2 separate regions of the Homo sapiens genome follow, and region 1 is linked to region 2. A link means that fine-mapping ties the variant in region 2 to the expression of a gene that starts in the linked region. Tissue or cell type: whole blood. Region 2 holds a variant in brackets; the other region holds the start of a gene. All regions are shown on one strand. Distances are from middle to middle.

The links. PIP is the estimated chance that this variant, and not a neighbour inherited with it, causes the effect.
Region 1: SCML4 starts here. The variant in region 2 is fine-mapped to the expression of SCML4 in whole blood (TOPMed, PIP above 0.99).

Annotation. Positions count from the first base shown.
Region 1 is chr6:107,819,579-107,827,685 of GRCh38, forward strand. SCML4 (Scm polycomb group protein like 4) reads right to left here and starts at 4,735. Exons shown (of 8, transcript NM_198081.5): 1 at 4,548-4,735. RefSeq lists an enhancer at 2,818-2,887.
Region 2 is chr6:107,716,347-107,724,453 of GRCh38, forward strand. SCML4 (Scm polycomb group protein like 4) reads right to left here. Exons shown (of 8, transcript NM_198081.5): 6 at 4,357-4,647. Among named protein-coding and RNA genes, the nearest start is that of SCML4, 100 kb to the right of the region's middle. RefSeq lists a silencer at 430-579. The variant G/A (reference allele first, on the strand shown) is at 4,663.

The sequences.
Region 1 (8,107 bases), 100 kb after region 2:
TAAGACAGCCTGGCTGCAGGAATGTGCAATCATTCTTGAAAATCAGCAATGGTGGGTTGCATTTATCTGATCAAAAAATGCAACTGCCAAAAAAAAAAAAAAAAAAAGCACATCTGCCTCCCCACAAATGAAAATTTAGGTAGCATGTGTCTAAGTTAGTGGCAGAGTAAGAGGAGTTTATATGGTTTCTTATCACTGGACTAAAACACAACTAGTAAAACTGGTATAGTAATAGTCACCCCGGGAAATATGCAATGTGGATATCAAAATCTACTCCCATTACTTCAGAGTGTCAAATGGACTGAGTGGAATGACTTTTCAGCTTAATGCAAAGTGAGAACTGCCACTGGGTAATAAATTCCTTTCTGTCCTAAAATAGTAGCCCAAGAAATAATCATCCCAAGAAGTAAGAGGTGTTTTATCTCCTCCGCGGCAGCAAAGGGCTTCTCCTGATTGCTAAGTGCTGATTTATTCCAGAATGCACAATTGCAGCTTGCTGCTGGTCTCCACCCCATCCGCCTGAAGGCAGGGATGTTCTTGTCTGTGTCAGAACTGCCTGCTTAACCCAGCAGGAAGCCTTGTCACCGGTATTCAGCCCTGGCCACGTCTCTTGGCTGAGAGAAGCAGGAGCCCAGCAATGCTAACATTTGAAAGATCCAGAGGGAAGAGAGGAGGCTGACTTTTGAAGGGATGATCTGCATCCATCACCACTTGCCCTCCAGATGCTATACCCAAATAGCAGTGTCCCTCCTGAGGCTGTCCCTGAATGCCACCCACCAGTGACCAGCCGCACTGGGAGGGGTGTGTGTTTGTGTGTGCGTGTGCGTATGCATGTCTGAGAAGGGCTGTTGTGGGGCAGGCTGCTCTGCAATGCTGAATGCTCCTGTCTGTGCCTCTTCAGACATTAATATATGCAGATCAGAGGAAGCTAAATTCCAAGCCTCTGTAAGCATGTCCAAAATGGCCCTCTTGCCCAAAGCACTTCTTCAAGTCTCAAACTAAAGATCAGCATTTGACAAACCACGGGTGAGAGTTTGCAAAAACATGAAGGAGTGAGCCCTTGCCAGAATTGAAACCAAGACGAGTGCAACAATGAAAAACGCTTAGAACCCACGGGCTGGCAGCCAGGGCGTTCGGACTTGGTATGGGCGTATCAACAAATGCAGGGTTCCCCACAGCGATTTACAGCAGAGACTCTAGTAGAGATTTACAGCAGACTGGAGCACTGCGCTCTTGCAAATGCAGAAGTTTGGGGTGGGGAAAGGTAGAAAAGAAAAAAAAGAAGAAGAAGGAGAAAGTGACATATTCAAATGCGATTCAAACATTCCAAGCTGCTCTTTTGACCTCAGAAATTTTACCACGATTTGGGTGATCCTAATGGTCTGTGGACCACGTTGGAAAATGTCACAATAGATGTTTGAATTAAAATCCAGTAGGTTTGCCAAAAGACCAATTGTTAAAAATTGGCAGCATTCCAGAGAACTTACTAGGCTGTGTACTGCCCCGGGGCTGAGAGAACTGCTAATTCCAGAGAAAGTTAATTATCACCTTATTGATAAAAGGGTAATTTTTAAAGCTTGTGGTGTGGCTTTTGTGACTCATTAATTAAAATTTAGAGTAATTTACTAGATACCCTGGTGGCTTCTGTTATATGATATCTGTACCAAGCCGTTTAATGTCTCTCCCAGGGGCTGATTTAATCCCCCTCTTCTCTCCTCACCTGTCTGCTTTTGAAGGCAATGAAAACATTAAAAAATGTGTAAATCTAAAACTAGCCTTTTGAGAGATGGCAGAATTAAGAAATAAGATGTCTAGGGAGGCATTGTTTAAAAGTTCCTTCTTAGAAACATCAGATGTGCCCACCAAAAGAAAGAAGCTTGTGTGATCACACCAAAGGCAACTGCTTTCACAAACTTCATCCACAAAATGTTAGACAAGATTTTACGCTCCATGATAATCAGATTAAAAGAGGGTCTTTTCTCATCTCCTTTCCCTTCTTTCCCATTCCATCCCCACATAAAATCTGAGGGCTCAGGGGAAGAATGACACTGGAGATGCTTGGTATCCTAAGGCTCCCAGCCCAATGAGGGGTAGTGTCACCTGCCACGCTCTTCAGGACTTGTGGAGTGGGATGGGCACATCCCGGCTCCCTGGCATCTACCCATGTGATATTGAGGTTTCCGAGGGCAGGGACTTGGGGAGGAAAATTGTCCTGCAGATCCCTAACAGGGCCCCTGTGAGGGCTTTCAAGCTCCAGCCACCACCTCTGCCTGGACCAAAAGTTCTTTAAGGTGCGTGTCATAAAGGATGTGTGGACACATGTGTGATGTGTCCTCAGGCCACACAAAATTGTAAACAGACCTACGAAGCACTCTAACATTTAAGCCCCCAGACTCCCAGAAAGGTTATTCCTCTCCGAGCATTCCTTGTTATGATTTCAGGGAACTTCAGTTATGTTTCCTTAAAAGTATTGAAGTATTTGAGATCCAAAATTGAGATTAAAAATACATAAACAGCAGAGATGATTTTCTCATCATTTCAAATTTTAAAAATTAAAAAAGTCTATCTTTGTACTTTGGGGTAGTGCTTGAATTTTTTAATAGGAAAGTGTTACTGAGTATTTTTTTAAAGTCAATATTGTTTTGAACTCTCATTATAAAAGTTCTTGCAGCAAGTGACAGTATTTGGGTCTGGCTTGTTTTCTGTGGGCTGAGCTGCTTAGCTTACCTGCTGCTTGCTAGAGGAGACAGCCTTTCACCCTCACCCCCAGGAGTCAAGAACCAGAAAGTGAAACTGCTTCTGCTGATTTCCCTCGCCTCGAAAACACACCACCAAAAGCAAAGAAATGATGAAAAGCAACTTACTCGTTTCGCTTATTGTTTTCTTGTCTTTCTATTACCGTTCATTTACTCTTTTCTTTTTTTCTTTTCTTTTTTTTTTTTTGCAGCAAAATAAAAGTAATTTTGGGGACACAGGGAAGAAATGTAAACATGTTATACATGAAAGAACTGGATTTTTGTGGGCTTTGCACTTTTGTTATAATTCCACAAATGAAGCAAACTGATGAATTTACCAAAATATTTCAGAGCTCATCTACGTACACAATTTAAAGAGCTAAAGAAAACACATTCATATTTTTTAAAAATTCTGTCAAAAAGCCTGTTTAAAAGTTATAGTTTGTGAAGCCACCAATTTCCCTAAAACTGAAGATTCTACATTAACCTTTTGAGTTTAGACGATCACGCAGTACCGATTTTCTAGGTAATCTTCACCCAGCTGCTGTTGCTCAAACAGCCCCTCATTTTATCAGACTAGTTCTACCAAGCAACACAAAAAATGCTCCACACAAATATTATACCCCCCAGATAGTTTAACACACTAAGAATTCCTTTGTAGTTATTTTTATGCTTTCACTCCAGATATTCTATTTTGCTTTAAAAAAAAAAAAGTGGAGAAAAAAAGCAGCTATATCCCTCATTCTTCAAAAATGGTTCCTCTGGTTGAAAAGAAAGAAAAACAGCATATAACAAATACCCTGATTCTGAAGTGCCTGGATTACTTTCTCAAGTACTGTAGTGTCTGAGATCAGTAAAAAACCACTTTCTCAGAAAGCCACTGATTGTCTAACCCTCATGAGTACCGTCATGGAATCTAGAGACAACACGAGGAGACACCTCTCGTTCACGATCACAGATAGTGGAAAGAACTTTGACTCAAGCACCTCAACTCAGCAAAACAGCTCAGCAGCCTGCACCCTGGCCTCATCCACCGCTCCTGTCCAGCCAGCAATCAACCTGGAGAGGACCCCTCATGCTTTGGGAGGAGCACGTGGAAGCTGGTTCAAGTCACAGTGCTCCACCTGGGAAGGAGGTGATTTTGAGCTTGGGAAAACTGCCGCTAATACTCCATAGTCACCAGTTTTTTTCCCAAAAAACGAATTAAAACCAGAAACTAGCAGTAAATATTATTCTTATTTATGCCTCATAAATTAGGAAAAACCAGCACAAAGACATGTGAAATATTCTACCTGGGATATTTGAAATAAAATTAAATGGGAAAAAAAACACTTTTACATGTTCATAACATACCAATTTTAATAACCAAATTTTAGGTAAATATTTTTATCCCAAGACATAGTACAATTTTTTTAAAATTAAAAAGCAAAACAAAGCAAAATTATCGTGAAGGGAAAAAATAACTAACCGGTTACTTGAGTTCACATTTGGAAAAAAATAACTTTCTAGGTATTTAAATGCAGAGTTAAAGAGTAATGAACATGTATATAGCCCAAATTTATAAACTATATAATTCAATGTTACATTTTCCCCTCTGAGATCTGGTTAATAAATTAAATGCTGTACTTTGCATATGAGGAACTAAAGTTTACCTACTGGACTCAGTGGTTTTAGTGCAGGACACTCTTGTGCGTTGCCATAGAGGTAGGCATGCAACCCAGAAAAAACTGAAACAGGTAACCTGTCATGCTGACAGTTACAAGAGAAAGATCCCGTGTCAACGGCACGCCTCCAATTGTGCATCTCCCTTACCTACAGCTTGTTCACCAGAGCCCTGAGCAGGTTGTTTACCAGGTCGGGAGTGTTGACTCAGAAGACAGATGACTTTCAGCACATGCAAACCGAGTATTGCAAAAGCTATCTTCCACCCGTGTTAGTAGCTCACAGTTAGTCTCCAGCAGCCCTGCGCTCCAGCTGCAAACATCTCATTAGACTAATGCATTCAGCACAGGCAGAAAACTCGATTTACCATAGCTACAGCAATGAATTTCCATTACGATGACAGCTTCAACCACATCATGTCCGGAAAACCAGCCAACCACTGGCTTTTAAAGAACACACACATTTTACATGCAGAAAACGAGGCCTCTGTGTGTGTGTGTGTGTGTGTGTGTGTGTGTGTGTGTGTGTGTGTGTGTGTGTGTTTTGTGTTTCCTTCCTCTTAGCAGCCTAAGAGAAATGTGCAGTGTAGCTTTTTGTCGACATGAGCTGCAAGGTAATGACACTTCTGCTTCTTTGGTAGTTACATCCTTGTAATAACCTGAATTATGTCACAATGGTTAGAATGGGTGTTTCCAACATTTCAGTTTTCATTACCCCTCCTCTGTTGCCATAGAAACCAGACTGTAACATCGTCTCTTTGTCCCAATCCTGCAGCAGTGTGGGCCAACACCAGGCTTATAAGACACTGGTGATCTGACAGAGTGAATGTTTGACTTTGGACAAATAAAACAAAAAGAAATATTACAATAGCATCATTGTTCAGGAGACCCTGTGTGATTCCCAGAGCAGTGTGCCTATCCAGGTGTGTGCACACACCATGGTTGTACATATTAAATCAGCGGCTGCCCACAACATATGTGTACAGTTCATTAAAGCCGGCCCTGACTTTGGCTCCAGGCCTGTATGTGTGTGTGTGTAAGCATCTCTACCCACCTCAACGTGGTGGGACCTGCACAGGATAGAAACAGGGCAAGAGTGACTATTCATTCCCATGCCCCATTGCATTTTCTGCAGCAAATCAATATATATCGGCGAAGGGATCTTTTCTTTTCCTTTCTTTTTGTAAAGTGGAGCAGGGCTCCCCATTGCCCATTTCATCCACTCTGGGATATTGGCATATTCACAGGTATTTCCTACAAGATGAAACATCCATTCTACAAACATGTGGCTTACTCCTAGGGATGAGCAGCAAACAAATTTAGCCGGGACTAAATATCAACCAGGGCTAACGAAGGCTTAGGCCACAACCTGGCCAGTTACTGAGAGTGAAAAAAACTGCAATGGACAACTTGAGGTTTCTCTAAATATATGTGTAGAGTCACATTAGAAGTACATAAGAAATCTCTCCTCTGAAATTTATTATGAAAATATAAAAAATTGTTTTAAGTCAAAGCCTTGTAATTAATTGAGCAAGAAGAAATTCACTACTTTAGTTCATTTAATCATCAAATTTTGTTGTTTTGTATGGGAAAAGGCAGGTTTGGTAGTTTGCATTTTCATTTCATATAAGTTGATTTCACTAAAGAAGGAGGAAGAGGAGAAGAAAAGAAAATAAGATGGATGGGCCAGGTGCAGTGGCTCATGCCTGTAATCCCAGCACTTTGGGAGGCCAAGGCGGGTGGATCACGAGGTCAGGAGATCGAGACCATCCTGTGAATGGTGAAACCCCGTCTCTACTAAAAATACAAAAAATTAGCTGGGCGTGGTGGCGGGCGCCTGTAGTCCCAGCTACTTGGGAGGCTGAGGAGGGAGAATGGCGTGAACCCGGGAGGCGGAGCTCACAGTGAGCCGATACCGTGCCACTGCACTCCAGCCTGGGTGACAGAGCGAGACTCCATCTCAAAAAAAAAAAAAAAAAAAAGAAAATAAGATGGATGGGCTAGGTGTGGTGGCTCATGCCTGTAATCCCAGCATTTTGGGACTCCTGGACTTGAGGTTAGGAGTTCGAGACCAGACTGGCCAACATGGTGAAACCCCATCTCTACTAAAAATACAAAAATTAGCCAGGCTTGGTGGCGCTTGCCTGTAATCCCAGCTACTCGGGAGGCTGAGGCAGGAGAATCGCTTGAACCTGGGAGGGAGAGGTTGCAGTGAGCTGAGATCACGCCATTGCACTCCAGCTTGGGTGACAAGAGTGAAATTCCATCTCAAAAAAAAAGAAAAAAGAAAGAAAAAGAAAAGAAGAAAAGAAAAGAAAAGAAAGAAAAGAAAAAGAAGAAAAGAAAAGGAAAGAAAAGGAAAGAAGATGGATGATTTAAGTTTGGACAGCATCTCTGTCCCAGCGACAGCGGTTATTATACTCACACCCGTGGCCTCACACATGCCACACTACACTGAGCTTAAAGCACCTGGAATGGGCTGAGACATTAGACCAATTTTCACTCTAAAATGTTTCTTAGGATTAAAAAAAATAACATTTCTTAAGTAATCAGAAATAATCTCCAAGTCCTGTAAAAGAAGTAAAAGGGTTGGCAGAATCTACCCATAAGAAAGGAGTTGCTGGTTTTCCTACCCAGCTCTGTGAGGGTTTCTCACTCTGATCCTCAGGCCCAACCTCCTTGCCTCCTCCCAGATGGGCTACTGTTGTCCTTGTCCTCAAGGTGGGTGCATGTGGGAAGCACCCATTGTCATCTAACAGGTCAACTTGGTAATAAAGCCTAAAATTGAAATCAACAAAAGCTGGATTGCTTGGGCGCGGTGGCTCACGCCTGTAATCCCAGCACTTTGGGAGGCTGAGGTGGGCAGATCACAAGGTCAGGAGATCGAGACCATCCTGGCTAACACGGTGAAACCCCGTCTCTACTAAAAATACAAAAAATTAGCTGGGAGTGGTGGCAGGCGCCTGTAGTCCCAGCTACTTGGGAGGCTGAGGCAGGAGAATGGTGTGAACCCGGGAGGCGGAGCTTGCAGTGAGCCGAGATCACGCCACTGCACTACAGCCTGGGCGACAGAGCGAGACTCCGTCTCAAAAAATATATATATTTTTTATATATATGTATATATTTAAGTAAACAATATTTATTTACTTAAATATGTTATTCAAAATATTTGATATTTAATAAATTATTCATTAAATTATGTAATTTAATAAATTTAATAAATATGTAAATATATTTATTTAAATATATCTTTATATTTTTATTTAAATATATTTACATTTTTATTTAAATATATATTTACATTTTTATTTAAATATATATTTGTTTTTTACTTAAATGTATATTTTTATTTAAATATATCTTTATATTTTTTACTTAAATTTTTTTATTTAAATATATCTGTATATACACACATTTATTAAAATATATATATTTAAACTTACTGGGATTTCTTTCTTCATGCAACCAGGAACATAGCTTTTAATAACTTAAATCAATATTTTAAAAAATCCTAAATGTTTTTAATTCCAAGAAAAATTTAAGTTAAACATGTAAGAAAAAAGAAATTTGATGGGATGACTGGTATTAGCTGAGGGACCTGCTAAGAAGAAAAGTGACCGCTCTGAGCTAGCATCTCTCTAAGTCTTGTACATCCCTGTCCCATGAAAAGGGTGCTTAGGTTGTGCCACGTTGTTAATTTTCTTTGCACTG
Region 2 (8,107 bases):
AGTCAGATCCTGGCTTAACACTTGATTTACCTTCTCTTGAACCTCTTTTTCTTTATCTTTAAATCAAATATACCAATACCTTTTTATAAATATTAAATCCTAAACATATAACTTATAATAAGTCGGAAACTGTCTGGCCCCCTTGAGTGTAGGTGTTCAATAAATAACAGTCTGATACAGGCCTCAAGCCCCCCTTTGCCAGGGCTGTGGGGGGTTCAAATATGAATAAGAGGCTTCACAAAGCTGAGGGTCTGTTCCTTTCTCTAGGATAGAGTAAGAACTATAGATGAGGAAACAAAGTGCCATGGGAGGAAAAAGGAGGGAGTGAGCATTTCTGATCAGACTTCCCATTGCCTACTCAGCGTTACTTTGCACTTCTTCCTCTGTAATAGCAGCCCTAACTTCCATCTGGAATCATGGTTGCTAGGAATGAAAACCACATTTCCCAGCATCCCTTGCAGCAAGTGGCCATGTGACTACATTTTGGTCAATGAAATGTAAGCAGAAACGGAAACCTCTTTCAGAGACACTGGTGCTATCCTTCCTTCCGTCTTCTCCCCACCCACTTCCTCTGTCTCACTGCTGAGAATGTGCATGGCTGACTGGCTGTTTCTGGTACCTGCGGTTTTATTTAGCACCCTGAGGAAGGCACTGGTTAAAAGGAATCTTTCGGCTGGGCGGGGTGGCTCACGCCTGTGGTCCCAGCACTTTGGGAGGCCGAGGCAGGCAGATCACGAGGTCAGGAGATCGAGACCATCCTGGCTAACACTGTGAAACCCCGTCTCTACTAAAAATACAAAAAAAAAAAAAAAAAAAAAAAAAAAAAAGCCAGGTGTGGTGGCAGGCACCTGTAGTCCCAGCTACTCAGGAGGCTGAGGCAGGAGAATGGCATGAACCCAAGAGGCAGAGCTTGCAGCCTGGGTGACAGAGCGAGACTCTGTCTCAAAAAAAAAAAAAAAAAGGAATCTTCGGAGAATTAAAGTGTTAACAGACCTACAAAGGATGAATAATTTCATTTTTCTTCAGTGTATCACAAAGGCTCAACAGTGAACTTCAACTGATACATCACATAGCAGCTTTTCTCCAAAGAGGTTAGGTGGCTTTGCGATTTTAAACATCCCACAGTCCCGTGGTGGGGGTCCTGCTGATTATGGACAACTGGATTTCAGGGTCTCAGGCAAAGTTCTCTCTAATATTTATTTTTATTTATTTATTTTTTGAGACAGAGTCTAGCTTTGTTGCCCAGGCTGGAGTGCAGTGGCGCAATCTCTGCTCACTGCAACCTCCACCTCCCGGGTTCAAGCGATTCTCTTGCCTCAGCCTCTCAAGTAGCTGGTATTACAGGCGTGCATCACGACACCCAGCTAATCTTTGTATTTTTAGTAGAGACGGGGTTTCACCATGTTGGTCAGGCTGGTCTCAAACTCCTGACCTCAAGTGATCCACCCGCCTTGGCCTCCCAAAGTGGTGGGATTGCAGGCATGAACCATCGTGCCTGGCTGGTTCTAATACTTCTAAGTTATTAAAAAGACAGCCAGGATTCAGGGTTCAGGTATTGATGTTCTTGGGATGAAAGGCAGCAGGCACAGGTGGACTCCGTGTCTCTGATCTCATCCCAGATCCTGACAGGCAGAAGGGCCTGAGCTAGGGGGCCTCTCCTGGGGTGCAACCAGGCTCCAGCAGAGAGGCTTTCTCAGAGCTGGAGGCTGAGGAAGGGTCTGGGCTGCCCCTCGGCCAGTCGTCTGGCAAGATTACTCAGACTGTCAGGGCCTGATTCCAGGATGATATGAGTTAGCTCTGTGTCCCCACCCAAATCTCACCTTGAATTGTAATAATCCCCATGTGTCAAGGATGGAGCCAGTTGGAGATAATTGAATCATGGGTTTGGTTCCCCCATTCTGTTCCTGTGGTAGCCAGTAAGTCTCACGACATCTGATGGTCTTATAAAGGGGAGTTCCCTTGCACAAGCCCTCTTACCTGTCACCATGTAAGACGTGCCTTTGCTTTCCCTTTGCCTTCTGCCATGATTGTGAGGCCTCCCCAGCCATGTGGAACTGTGAGTCCATTAAGCGTCTTTCCTTTACAAATTACCCAGTTTCGGGTATGTCTTTATTAGCAGAACAGACTCATACACAGGAGAACAAAGGGCCGGTATGGGGATGAAAGTGAAGGACAGGAGGACATCCTAGGGCTCAACTGGAAGGAGGTGTGAGGGGCTGGGGGACAGGAGCTATGCTGAAGCCCTCTGAAGAGCCCTGGATTCCCTGGCCCTGGGTCACCAGTTGGACTGAACAGGGCAGACTGTTGTTGAGTGAGTGATAGAAGTTCTCTCCAACCAAATCATGCCTCCCTCTTACTGCTGGAAATCCTGCATTTAAGACATAGGGCTGAGATTGCACCAACGTGAGTGGGAGAGAGAGTAAATATCTCCTTTTTAAAAAGTGGGACTCTGGGATTATGAGTCAATTCAATCAGCATGGTGTCCTGTGATCACCACCCTGAGAAAAGGGGAATGGGGCTGAGGAGAAGAGGATGAGAGAAAGACATTTAAACTCAAGAGGGACATAAGGATGAGTGTTTTGACAAGAAGACAAAGGGACACCGTGAGGGCACAGACATGATGCATGTTTATTGAACACCTACCACATGCCAGATATTAAGCTAACACTGGGGACAAACCTATGAAATCAAGGCTGCCCCTGGTTTACTTTACAGTGTTGGTTCGTGAAAGATCTTGTCCCTTTCTCTTGTTCTTAGGAATCAAATGGAACAATGTTGCTCTCCTTTGGAAAATAGGGCTCTGCTCACTTAATCTGCCTGGCTCATGGCCCTGTGTGACAGTGTTGGAAAGTGGCCTGCAGGGCATCTCTACATTTGGTAAGAGCTGCTGTGGAGGGAGAATCTGCGCTCTACCCCTCAGAACGCCTCTCCGGCAAGGGGCCCCTTCTCACCTCTCCATCCTTGGCCAGGGGAAGCTGGTCAGGGCCACGCTCATCTGGGTTGGATGAGGCTCTTGGAAGAGAATGTGTGGAGGGTCTTGAATCATACAAAATAGCTCACGTGTGCGGCTTGCTGGGGTCACTGGTGGAAGGATCCTAGGCTCAGGGGAGAAATGTGACTTGCCACAGAAGACAGAGCCTGCCCACTGAGGGGCTACAGGGTGGCAAGATGAAGACTCCCAGACTCCTTGGCCTGGGGCCTTCTTTCTTCAGCAGTTCTCAGCTGTGGAGCTGATGGGCTGTGATCTGTTAAGGGATGTGTTAAAAAGATCTATGCTGTAACTACTAACATTTATTGAGCTCTTGTTACCTCCTAGGTCTTGTACTAAATGCATGTATGAACTCATTTAATCCTCCCAACAATCCTATGAGGCAGGTGCTGCCATTATTATTATCACAATTTTATAGGTGAGGAAACTGAAGCACAGGTAAGTTAAGACTTGCAAAAGGTAGGCAGGAAGCAGCAGATCCAGCATCTCAGCCCAGGCTGTCTGGCTCTAGTCCCAGTGATTATCCACTATACTCTATGGCCTTTAGGCACTATCAAAATACTGAAGCTTGAAAATGATTTTTTAAAACATCAATCAGAAGGGCCTTCAAGCTATTACTATAATCCTTTAGCCCTTATAGCGCTTTTGTAGACTGCATTCCAACAAGCTTTCTTTAGTGGATGAGACAGAAGTGGCATTACAACCAGCATTGGGGGAATTTTGCCTAACTCTGCCTCTGCTCATGTATTTGTATCCTGAAGGTGACACTTCCTATGCAAGAGACAATTCTTTACCAAGGTCTGGTTCTCCTTTCTCCTGGGCAGAGCTAACCTACAGCTTCCAGAGTCCCTTATGGTTAAGTGTGGCAAAATGACCAGCTTTTGCCAATGAGATGTGAGTGGAAGTGATGAGCATCACTTTCAGATTGCAGGGAAGCACCTGTGTCTTCTCCACACCTTCTTTCCCTTTCTATTCCCTAATGCATGGGGCATGAAGGCTGTAGAGGGTGGCAGAGCCACAAAATAGATGGAGCCTATGTCCCTATATTGAGATGCATCCATGAATCAGGAACATTCACCTTTGGCTCTCGAACAAAAATTTCTATGGTATTTGAGCCTGTGTACATTTTGGAGTCTACGTATCCTGTGGCCTAGCCTGCCCTAATACACGATTTTCTTTGCTTATCAAAGGTTGAGTTTGGCTGTTTTTGAGAACCTCAAGATCCATGAAAGGACTTGTGGAAATTTCTGATCTCCCAGCAGTCCCACGTTTAAACAGCCACACTCCCCCTTCCCCAGATGCTGTGCTCCCCGCGCAAGGGCAAGGGATGTTAAGTCAGTGGGAAGCTGATGCATGCATTACATTACCACATCTGTTTCCTTCAAGAGAGGTCGTGTTTCTCTTGGGGCTGGAGGCTGGAGGCCTCAGCCCAGGTGCCGAGGGGCCACCAGAAGACATGGGGCTAGTGCGGGGACCACCAGCGGTGGCAGCAGGACCACCCCCAAGGTGGCTGTCTCCAGAGTTCTGCCTCTTGCAGTACAGCGAGGAGGAGGGGTGCAAGGAGCCCCTGTGGTTAAAGGTGGAGGCGGAGGTGTCCACGCTGTAGCGGTTCATGCCCACAGGGTTCACCAGGTACTCTTCGGTGGTGACTGTCTTGACTAAGCAATAAGGCA[G/A]TACAGAGAAGCAGATATCAGAGAGCAGTTCAGGAAGCTATCAGACCCTCCGTCTTGGCAAACCCTGCCCTGCCAACACAGTAGCCAGTATTTGTGAGCATGCAGAGAGGAGAAATGAACCTCACAACATAATTCCAAATAGCATACCTGTCAGCAGGCTGAGAGCTGCTTTGCCCACAGGAGCATATTGTAATAGGAATTAGGAGGTGTGCTCCTCGGTGCTTAGAGGAAAATTGATATTTTGGCCATTGATGACTTAATAAGCCCAAATCAGGCCAGGTGCAGTGGCTCCCGTCTGTAATCCCTGAACTTTGGGAGGCCAAGGCAGGTGGATCACCTGAGGTCTGGAGTTCAAGACCAGCCTGGCCAACATGATGAAACTCCATCTCTACTAAAAATACAAAAAATTAGCCGGATGTGGTGGCAGGCACCTGTAATCCCAGCTACTCAGGAGGCTGAGGCAGGAGAATCGCTTGAACCCGGGAGGCAGAGGTTGCAGAGCAAAACTCCATCTCAAAAAAAGAAAAAAAAAAAGAGTAAGATCAAAGACTTTCTTCTGCAGTGGCTCTGCCCTCACAGTCTCTGCTGGCTTCTCAGAATCTCCCTGTACTCCCTGCTCTTGCTCACCCACCAGCACAGCCCCCCTCACCTGGCTCAGGACTCCTGGGAGAGATCAAGCAAGAGTCACAATGTCCCAGAGTCAGGAGAGACAACTGTGGCCTGGGTGGTGGCCCAGGTGCCACAGTGCTTTCTCCCCACACCTTTAGTCCTGATACAAACACATGAGGGCAGCCATCCTCCGCCACGGCTAACAAGCAGGGATGCAAGTGCTGATCTGGATAGCCCCACAATCCTCCCCAAACCCTTCACAGGAGAGCTAAAGAGCCAAGCTAAAGTGCAGAGGGAGGAGAGGACTTAGAAAGTCTGCCAACCTCATCATCAGCGCCTCTTAAGTAAACCAGGACTTATCATACTTTTTTTTTTTTTTTTTGAGATGGAGTTTTAATCAATAAGTCTGTCACCCAGGCTGGAGTGCAGTGGTGCGATCTCGGCTCACTGCAACCTCCACCTCTCTGGTTGAAGCGATTCTCTTGCCTCAGACTCCCGAGTAGCTGGAAGCACCATACCCGGCTAATTTTTGTATTTTTAGTAGAGATGGGGTTTCACCATGTTGGCCAGGCTGGTCTCAAACTCCTGACCTCAAGTGATCCATCTGCCTCGGCCTCCCAAAGTGCTGGGATTACAGTCCTATACTTTTAAAGCTCAACATTGAGCCTGTTGAACTCCCTGTGAGCTACACCTGTGGCCGAATGGTGGGTTTTTTGTTTGTTTTATTATTTTTATGTGGAGTTTTTCTTTTGGGGGGTGGGGGAAGTCCAGAGAAATTACGGTGATAGAAAGAAGGAAACTATTCTAGTCCCTCCCACCAGGACAAGATCATGTCTACCTGTCCCCAGCAATAATTATCTGTATATTAGACACCATCAAAACAGATCTTGGTATGCCCAAAGAAAATGCAATCAGCAAAAATATGAAAAATAAAAACAAAACAAAACAACAACAACAACAAAAACCAATGGATCCTCCATGATTGGCAATGAAAAACAAATTTGAGGCCACAAGATCCAAATGTCTTCTCCATACATGGATTCTTCCACAATGTAGGAAGATTATTGAAGATTAAGACTTGATTTTATTAGGGAAGCTAGCAGATCTTCTCATAGTTGGGGATGGATGTGGAGCTTGACTAAAAATAAAAGTCTTTGAAGATGTGATACAGATAAGTAGTGGCTAGAGGTAAATTTACAGCTGTAAATACTTCTGTTAAAGGAAGAAAGATCTCAAATGAATAACCTAATCTTCTATCATAAGACACTGGAAAAAAAAGCAAAGAAGGAAATAATAAAGATTTGAGCAAAAATTAATTCAATAGAGAATTTTAAAAAACAATAGAAGAAATCAATAAAACCAAAAGCTTGTTCTTTGGAAAAAGAACCAACAAAATTGCAAGCCTTTAGCTACATTGACAAAAAAATAAACAAATAAAACGTAAAGAAGGAAAGAGAGATGATTCAAATTACTAGAATCAGAAATGAAAACCTGAAAGAGAGGAAATTACTACCAACCTTACAGAAATTGAAAAAGATTGAGAAATACAGATGCTTTTTGCTTACAATAGGGTTATATCCCAATAAATTTATCATAAGTTAAAAATATCATAAGTTGAAAATGCATTTAGCATACATACTCTACCACACATTATAGTTTAGCCTAGCTGACCTCAAACATGCTCAGAACACTTACATTAGCCTACAGTTGGACAAAATCATCTAACACAAAGCCAATTTTATGATAAAGTATTGAATATCTCATGTAATTTACTGAATACTTACTGAAAGTGAAAAACAGAATTGTTGTATAGATACTTGAAGCATGGTTTTCAGTGAATGTGTATCACTTTCACACCACCATAAAGTGAAAAAAATCATTGTCAAACCATCTTAAGTAGGGAACCATCTGTTCTATAAACAGTTGTATGCCAGTAAATTAGATAACTTAGATAAAATGAACAAACTACTAAAACTGACTTAAGAAGAAAAAGACAATCTGAGTAGACCTGTAAGAAGTAAAAAGATTGAATTAGTAATCAGAAAACTACCCACAAAGAAAGCCCAAGCCTGAATAACTTCACGGTTGAATTCTACCAAACATTTAAAGAAAAAATAATACTAATTCTTTACAAATTCTTCCAAAGAATAGAAGGGGGTGGAATACTTCCCAGCTTCTATGGCAAATACTTCTACGAAGCCAGGATTACCCTCATACCAAAACCAGACAGACACATCATAAGAAAACTATAGACCAATATCTGGTATTCATATGAATGCAGAAATCCTCAACAAAAAACCTGGCAAAACTGAACCCGGCAACATATAAAAAGATATATACACCATGACCAAGTAGGATTTATCCCAGGAATGCAAGCCTGATTTAACATTCCAAAATCAATTAATGTAATACACCATATGGATAGAATAATAAAACAGAGATCACACAATCACCTCAACAGATGCAGAAAAACATTTGACAAAATCCAATACCCTTTTATGATAAAATCACTCAACAAACTAGGGACAGAAGGGAATTTCCTCAATCTGACAAAGGGTATCTGCAAAGAACCAATAGGTAATATCATGGCTAATGGTCAAAGACTGGATGCTGTCCCCCAAGATCAGGAACAAAAAGAGACGGTCCATTCCAGCTACTTCTATTAACATTGTACTAGAGGTTCCAGCCAGTGCAATTAGGTTAAGGAAAAGAAAAGCCATCTGGATTAGGAAGGAAGAAGTACAACTATCTCTTATGTGTACGAAATCCTAAGGAATCTACTTAAAAGACTGTTGGAACTAGTAAGTAGTTCAGCAAGGTTGTAGGATACAAGATC